Linked DNA regions of Homo sapiens. The protein of the gene in region 1 interacts with the protein of each later gene in a pairwise test. Each region holds a gene or a part of one and is shown in the gene's direction. Other genes may lie near its edges.

The links.
Region 2: the proteins of IRAK3 (region 1) and NTRK3 interact in a two-hybrid assay, tested with the Homo sapiens proteins (one large-scale study listed by BioGRID and IntAct).

The regions. Positions count from the first base shown.
Region 1 is NC_000012.12:66,241,214-66,244,713, forward strand, and holds part of IRAK3 (interleukin-1 receptor-associated kinase 3), read left to right. Parts: intron 1-3,272; coding exon 3,273-3,471; intron 3,472-3,500. UniProt on the Homo sapiens protein: Putative inactive protein kinase which regulates signaling downstream of immune receptors including IL1R and Toll-like receptors.
Region 2 is NC_000015.10:87,865,240-87,868,739, reverse strand, and holds part of NTRK3 (NT-3 growth factor receptor isoform a precursor), read left to right. Parts: 3' UTR 1-3,500. UniProt on the Homo sapiens protein: Receptor tyrosine kinase involved in nervous system and probably heart development.

The DNA.
Region 1 (3,500 bases):
GAATTATCTGGAGAGGGGATGGCCTCTCTGTTAAGGTAAATAGCCTTGTGATAAAGAGTAGAACAAATCGATTGTAGAAGCATGAAATTGAGGATATGAACCATGGATATGGGTCAAAGATGTCTTTTATCTATCTCTTTGGTGGCCACAGTTGCTTGCAGGCTGCCCTTTTGCATGATATTGCCATGACTGTAGTTGTGTTAGGTTCTTAATTTTGTTAGTTTATTTTCACCCCACAGGATTAACTTACTCAGCTGACCTGCATGGAAGCTGAAGACACTTTGTGTTTGAACATTCTATTTAAGGTTGAAGCAGGGGAAAAGAATTAAGGTAGAAATTGATCGTTGAAGGGCCTTTTGCAATTTCCGCTTTCCTAAAACAGAACATCCTTCTTCCTCAGCTACCGCTAACCTTTATTTAGAACAGAATAAATCACTGGACTCAAAATTTATGTTATACACTAAAGTCAGCTGAAAAACGACTTATCTTTTCACCGATTGTCATTATTCAAATTGTAAATTCAGTACCCTAGAATAATTTCACATCTTGTTGATGGCCTTTCACTGACCCAAAGTCCTCTCTGGGTTTTATGGTGTAAGCATTGTTTGTGGTTACTCAACTCCCTTCTGCCCAACTTTCACAGAAGCTGACTCACCATTTGCTGAAAGCATCCCACCAGCTTTGCTATGGGTCAAATAAAGAATTAGATTGAAGGTTTTGTTGTTATTACTGTTGCTCTTTTCTCCCTTTTTGTACTTAAAAGATTCAGGGTTTTTTTGTGTGTGTGTGTGTGTTTCAAAAATTCAGCTTTTGCAGTCTCATGATTCTGGCATTGTCAATTATAATTCTATGCCTTTTTTTAGAGCTGTGATAGAGGAAGATGTTTAGGTGTTTGACATTGAATATCTGCCATTCAGAACATTCCCACCCTCCCCCTGTGCTGAAATGAAATGGGGCATGCAGAAGTGACTCCAAAGTTGAAGGGCAGAAGGTGGGGTCCTGGCAATGAAGGTTGGAGAACCTTTTTTTCCCACCTCGCCTCCTGGCCCACCGGCAAACTCCTGCATTCAAATGCCCCCAGGACTCTGAAACCCTCAGGGCATCTCCAGGAGCCTCAGACTTGATCTGATCCATTGAAGAGTCAACCTAGGGAAGAAGTGATTATGAACTGACAGTCTCTTCTTATCTAGAGCTGGAGAGAAGTCGGATCTGACTCTAGTCTGTTCCTCATCTGAGGTATGTCAGGATAGTCAACAGTTCTCCAAGTGAGAAAGTAAGAGTGGGTGAGGAGTGACAGATGGGGGTGTGTGAGGCCCAGGCTGGCTTTAGCAGCTGCTGGGTTCTCCAGGGAGAAGGGAGAAGGCAAGGAGAGAAATGACAACTGTGCTCATTGATACGAGCCTTGGGAACCAGGCCTCTCTGACCTTCCTTCCATAAATGCTAAGAGCACACAGCTGATAAGAGGCCCTAGAGCTCAGAAGGTGGGCTTTTTGGATTTTACAATTCCCTTGCCACCCTTAGCGGAAGGAGGAGTGAAATAAAGTTTAAAATGTGTCTTTATCCTTAAAAGACCGCGGGGTCTGGGCGCAGTAGCTCATGCCTGTAATCCCAGCACTTCGGGAGGCCGAGGCGGGTGGATCACCTGAAGTCAGAAGTTCAAGACCAGCCTGGTCAACATGGTGAAACTCCATCTCTACTAAAAATTAGCCGAGTGTAGTGGCAGGCGCCTGTAATCCCAGCTACTCAGGAGGCTGAGGCAGGAGACTCACTTGAACCCGGGAGGCAGAGGTTGCAGTGAGCTGAGATCGTGCCAATGCGCTCCAGCCTGGGGGACAAGAATGAAACTTTGTCTCGAAAAAAAAAAAAAGACCACCGGAAGTGCCTTTGTTTTTTCTGTTGTCAACTCAGCCCTAGACAAAGTCTGGACTAGAATCTTTAAGGCCTTAGCTTCATACATTGAACTGTTTCCCCCAAACTCTCTAAATAGAAGTAGGACTCTGAGTCCTCTGAACAGTAAGAACACTTGCAGTTCAGACCTATGGAACTGGGGCCTGCCCGTTAACCTACCTGTATAGGGATAGCAAAGACTTCTGGAGCTTTTGTAAGATCCAAAATTTGTTCAGAATTAAGAACTTCTTGATATCCCGTGGCTGTTGCTGTAGCACTTTTAGTAACAGCATGTCGTACTACAAATATGCCTCTTGGCATTTTGGATGGGAAGGTGTACTATTAGATGCTTTGGTTTCAGGAAATAAAGAGCAAGCTCTGAAGAGCCCTAAGCAAAGCTGGGAATTGCATGCCTTTCTGTTGGCTGCCCCACCTCCTTCTCAATATCCATCTGTTCTCTTAGAATTGATTACTAATCTTCCTCCTAGCTGCCATTTTTTGAGCATTACCAAGTGCTGGGGAGGACACTATGCACTTCGTTTTCCCCCTGCCAGAGTTCTGTTCTCCTCATTTCACATGAGAGGAGAGAGGGCACTGAGGCTTACATGGCGAAGGAAACTGTGGGTGGTCATGGAGCCAGGGAAAGGCAGAGCTCCTGGCTGTATGCAGTGGGAAATGGATCTCTCTCTTGGCTTATCCTTTCCGGTTCCTGCTTTGACAGCCCTTTGAAGGTAAAAGTAAGCCAATGCCTACCCCCAGCCAAAATGTCAGATGATTCTTAAGGTTTTTAATGTGACAACTGCTTATATTGACTATAAGCACTTTGCCTTTGTCTCTGCAAACATTTGTATTTTAAATAAGACTCAAAGACCAAAAAACAGAGATGAAACCATGGGATAGGGCTGCCATGAGGGCAGGGACTACCAAAGAGTCCTCAAATCATTCCAAGTTAGTGGCTCTGCGCTCATAAGCTAAGCATTTCACAGCACAGCTCTTGCACATAACAGACACATAATCAGCTGATTAAAACTCAGTTCATGTTCTCCGTAAGTGTAAGAAAAGCACAAGGAAAGCTGTTTTGGTTAACTTCAGTTTCTCTTAGTGAGAAAGCATCAGCTTTATCCAGCAACTTCACATATGTATCTTTAAGTTTGAAATGCCCACTGTTCATAGGTCAGGTTTTTATTCTAGGTTGCAGATAACACTTGGATTTGTACATTAAGAAAAATGAAAGAATGTTCTCCAGTTCATGGAAATTTGTTTGGCTTTATTTTGACAGTGTTTCGAATTAACCAGATATGAAGAAGGTGAGTTTATAGTATGTTTGTTTACACTGAAGTGCCTTTATGATATTTTGTCTTGTTTGTCCCTGATCACAATTTTAGTGCAAACATCCTTTTGGATGATCAGTTTCAACCCAAACTAACTGATTTTGCCATGGCACACTTCCGGTCCCACCTAGAACATCAGAGTTGTACCATAAATATGACCAGCAGCAGCAGTAAACATCTGTGGTACATGCCAGAAGAGTACATCAGACAGGGGAAACTTTCCATTAAAACAGATGTCTACAGCTTTGGAATTGTGAGTACCAACTGCCAGTTAACAAAGGA
Region 2 (3,500 bases), on another chromosome or scaffold:
ACTCTATAATTCCACATTGTGGCACAACAGCCACATAGAACCTCAAAGCTGAAATTGCAACTTTTCTGCAAAATAGGGCCATTGATTACATCCAAAGTTTTGAGAAAAGGCCTTCAGGTTAGATTCAGTCACCTTCAGACTCCACAGAGTTGCTCAGCATGGTTGCAGGCGTCTTTGGAAACTTACCTCAGGGTTTTAGAATACGTTACCCTGAAGTCTGGATAACAATTTTCTCTGAGATTTTACTGATTCTAATTCCCTTTGAAATTGTTTTTCCTACTTGCCTCTTGTCTTTCATTTAAATAATAAGAATCTCCTTGCATATTCTTAGGTATTTCTTTAGGAGAATTGGAAGTTTCCAGCCAAGGACACTGTGTTTATGAATTGGAAAGATATCTTTCTGGGCTGAAAAAGGTAAAAATCATACGGAGGCAATCTTGATGACTTTATTTAAAAGCAATTATCAGCATTGTGTTTTATTCTAGGTGCTCGTGCTCATAGTGCAAACTACATTCACGTTTTTAATTATTTATGTTATGATACTTATTCGTGTGTACATATATGCGCACACACACACACAAAAGCCTCCACAATCCTACTGGTATACAAATCCATATGCCCCATTTGTGTCGCTTCCGTTGATCTTTGTGTGCATGCATTTGCAATGAAGTGTGCATCACATGTGTGATTTCTTAAAGTCATCTATAGCTCATCTTTCCTCTTATTATCGACACATACCCTTTGACTTTCTGCACTTTGGAGCTCATGAAATTAAGGCTTTTTCAAGGGAGACTACATCTTGAGTTTCTTTAAACCTTCATATTTAAAGATAGGACTGGTTTTCTTCGAGAAACAAAAACTTGATTCAGATTTTATTTAATTAATTAATTTTCTGGGGGAAATGGTACTGAATTTGTTCCTGAGTAACAAATAGTAGTAAGTGCAAATATAAATGTGAAGTAGTTTAAGCAGGTTATTGAACCTATCTTGTGGCTGAAACAAGTAGTCAGATATGAAGCTCAGACACTCAAATTGAATTAGAACGTGAACCAAAACGGTTAGCATGGGGCAGGAGAAGAGCACTGGGCTAGGAGCAAGCCTGCTAGATTGTCACTTGAGTGTCCTTAGCTTAATGTGGGCATCTGACAACTAGTTGCAGTCCTGTGCCCCTCTAATTCCAGAGATGGGGCAAGCCAATCTGTTTCTCATCCATTGCTCAAGTTGGTTATCACTGAAATATTATATACCATCTCAAGATCCTGCCCTGAACAAGTTTGCAAACATCCCCCCCACACTGAGGAGTCAGTCCCATTTTTGTTTTATGGCAGTTTATCTCTTGTGACCCTCCTTTGGAAGCTGTCCAAACTCTGAACACTTGCTGTCCATTCCCTGCTCCCCACCCCACCCTTTAAGGCCAGGGAAAAGCCAGGGAAAGCCCTATTGGCTCATCTCCCTCTTTCCTAGCCTGCACATCAACCAAGCTTGGGATTTAGCCTAGGTTTTCAGAGAGGAAAACAAGTGCGTTCTCCCAGCCATCAGTATCTTTCCAGCCCCCTGGACCAAGTGATTAGTGCCTCATTAGCGCCTCATCAGTTGCTTTTGCACAAGAGACTCTGGGACAACAAGCCTATTATAATGCCTCAGTCTGTCTTTTTGAAGTCAAACCATCCTTCTGGCTTGGTTAGGAAAGGGGAGCCTTTCTCCAAACACGTTTTCTTTTAATTTCCTCTGTTGTTTTCTGGCTGTTAACTATATGGATAAATGGTAAAACATAATTTTCATTTTTTCTAGGCCCCTATGAGAGTGGATATGCTATATTTCTATAGATGAGGAGTTCCACATGTCAGCAAAGCATTTATTTATTTAGTGAAGTGACTATAATATTGACACACAGATTTGCAGCAGCATCCAAATCTTGAGGGGGAAAAAAAAGCCTTTTTCAATCAAATGAAACCTTTTCTGTGATGGCACCAGAGAGGTTTATATCTTAAGCACAGAACTGAACCTGATAATATGCTTCCTTTCTAGAAACAAAGAGATAGAAGAAATTGCTGAAGGAGCTGGAAGACCAAACCATCTATTCCCCAAATCATTATGTATCAATAGATACTTCAACTCTGTTCCTTAAATGGCTCTGAAAAACACAAATAACCATATTTACTATTAAAAACAAATTCATAATGTCTAACCCAATCCCTTATTTTAATATATATACATATTAAAATAATCCCATGTATATATGATTATTATTATATGGGATATATATAGTTTACATATATATAGGGGTGTGTGTGTATATATATATATATATTTACATATATATGTAAATGTATACTTTTTAATGCTGGGGATAGTTCCATATTGTTTCTTTTCTTGATTCCTTCTAATATATTCAATGAGATTTATAATTTTTTTCACTTTTATTTCTTTAGGAAAGAGTTGGGGTCTATTATGAATGCTTTCTAGGATAAAATGGCAAAACAGATGGAAAGTGTGGTAGAGGGAGGATAATGGGAATAGGAGGCAGAGAACTTGCACATTTCTATTTCCTGCTGAGAGATCTTGGAAAAACATTGTCTGCCCTTTACCTCAGTTTCTTAACATACAAAATAGAACTACTATCAACCCCCTGCATGCCACAGAGGGTTATTTGAGCCCTAAATGAGATCATAACTGTTAACATACTCTGTGAACTGTACAGGGCCAGACAAATAGAGCCCACTCTCTGGGCAGTTGCATACAGTCTTGCTGGGTGCTGAGCTGAGTGACTGAGAGCCGCTTTTGAGACACATTTTGAGGCATATCTTCCCTAAATTTTTGCTGGTGTCTGTTTTTTAGAAGTTTTGCCATTAGCATTTTTTGCTTTGAGTATCTAGTGATGGAGAATGCTCTAAAAAATACAAGGAGACAGGGGGATTCTTTATCTATTTGGCTTAGTCACTGGAAAGGGACAATTAGAGTTTGTTTTCAGGCTTGGAACTCTGACATTTTGTAGCAAAATGGCATCTTCTGCTGCATTTAATTCCTTGCCATCAACTCTTGCTTTCATAAGGTTCTGTCAATTTCAACATAATGCTTTGTAAAAATAGGACTCTGTGAAACTTTCTCTATAAATTTGGTGGTATAACTAATTTTTCAGGGAGCATCTGAAGGGATAATGATTTTTAAGTGGTACCCTGTTCATGCCAGGACCAGCATTTGTACATGGGAAAATAATCTTAAGATGAGTGAAGAGCAAATGCTAGACCACACCTTTAATAGGCCCAAGTGCCAACAAAAATACGTGTGAGTGGGATTCCCACGGAGAAATGTTTCTGAATGAAAATGAAACCCTTGATAATGAATCCTGAGGCCAGAATGCCAAAGTCACAGTATTCTGTCATTTACAGCCCCTAAAAAATCCCAGGTGTTTGTGATGACAAGCCACTATTATAAGTACTCTGTATTAGTGACTACTTGGCAAGTAAAATTTTCTCAAATGTTATTTTTCATAGATCTCC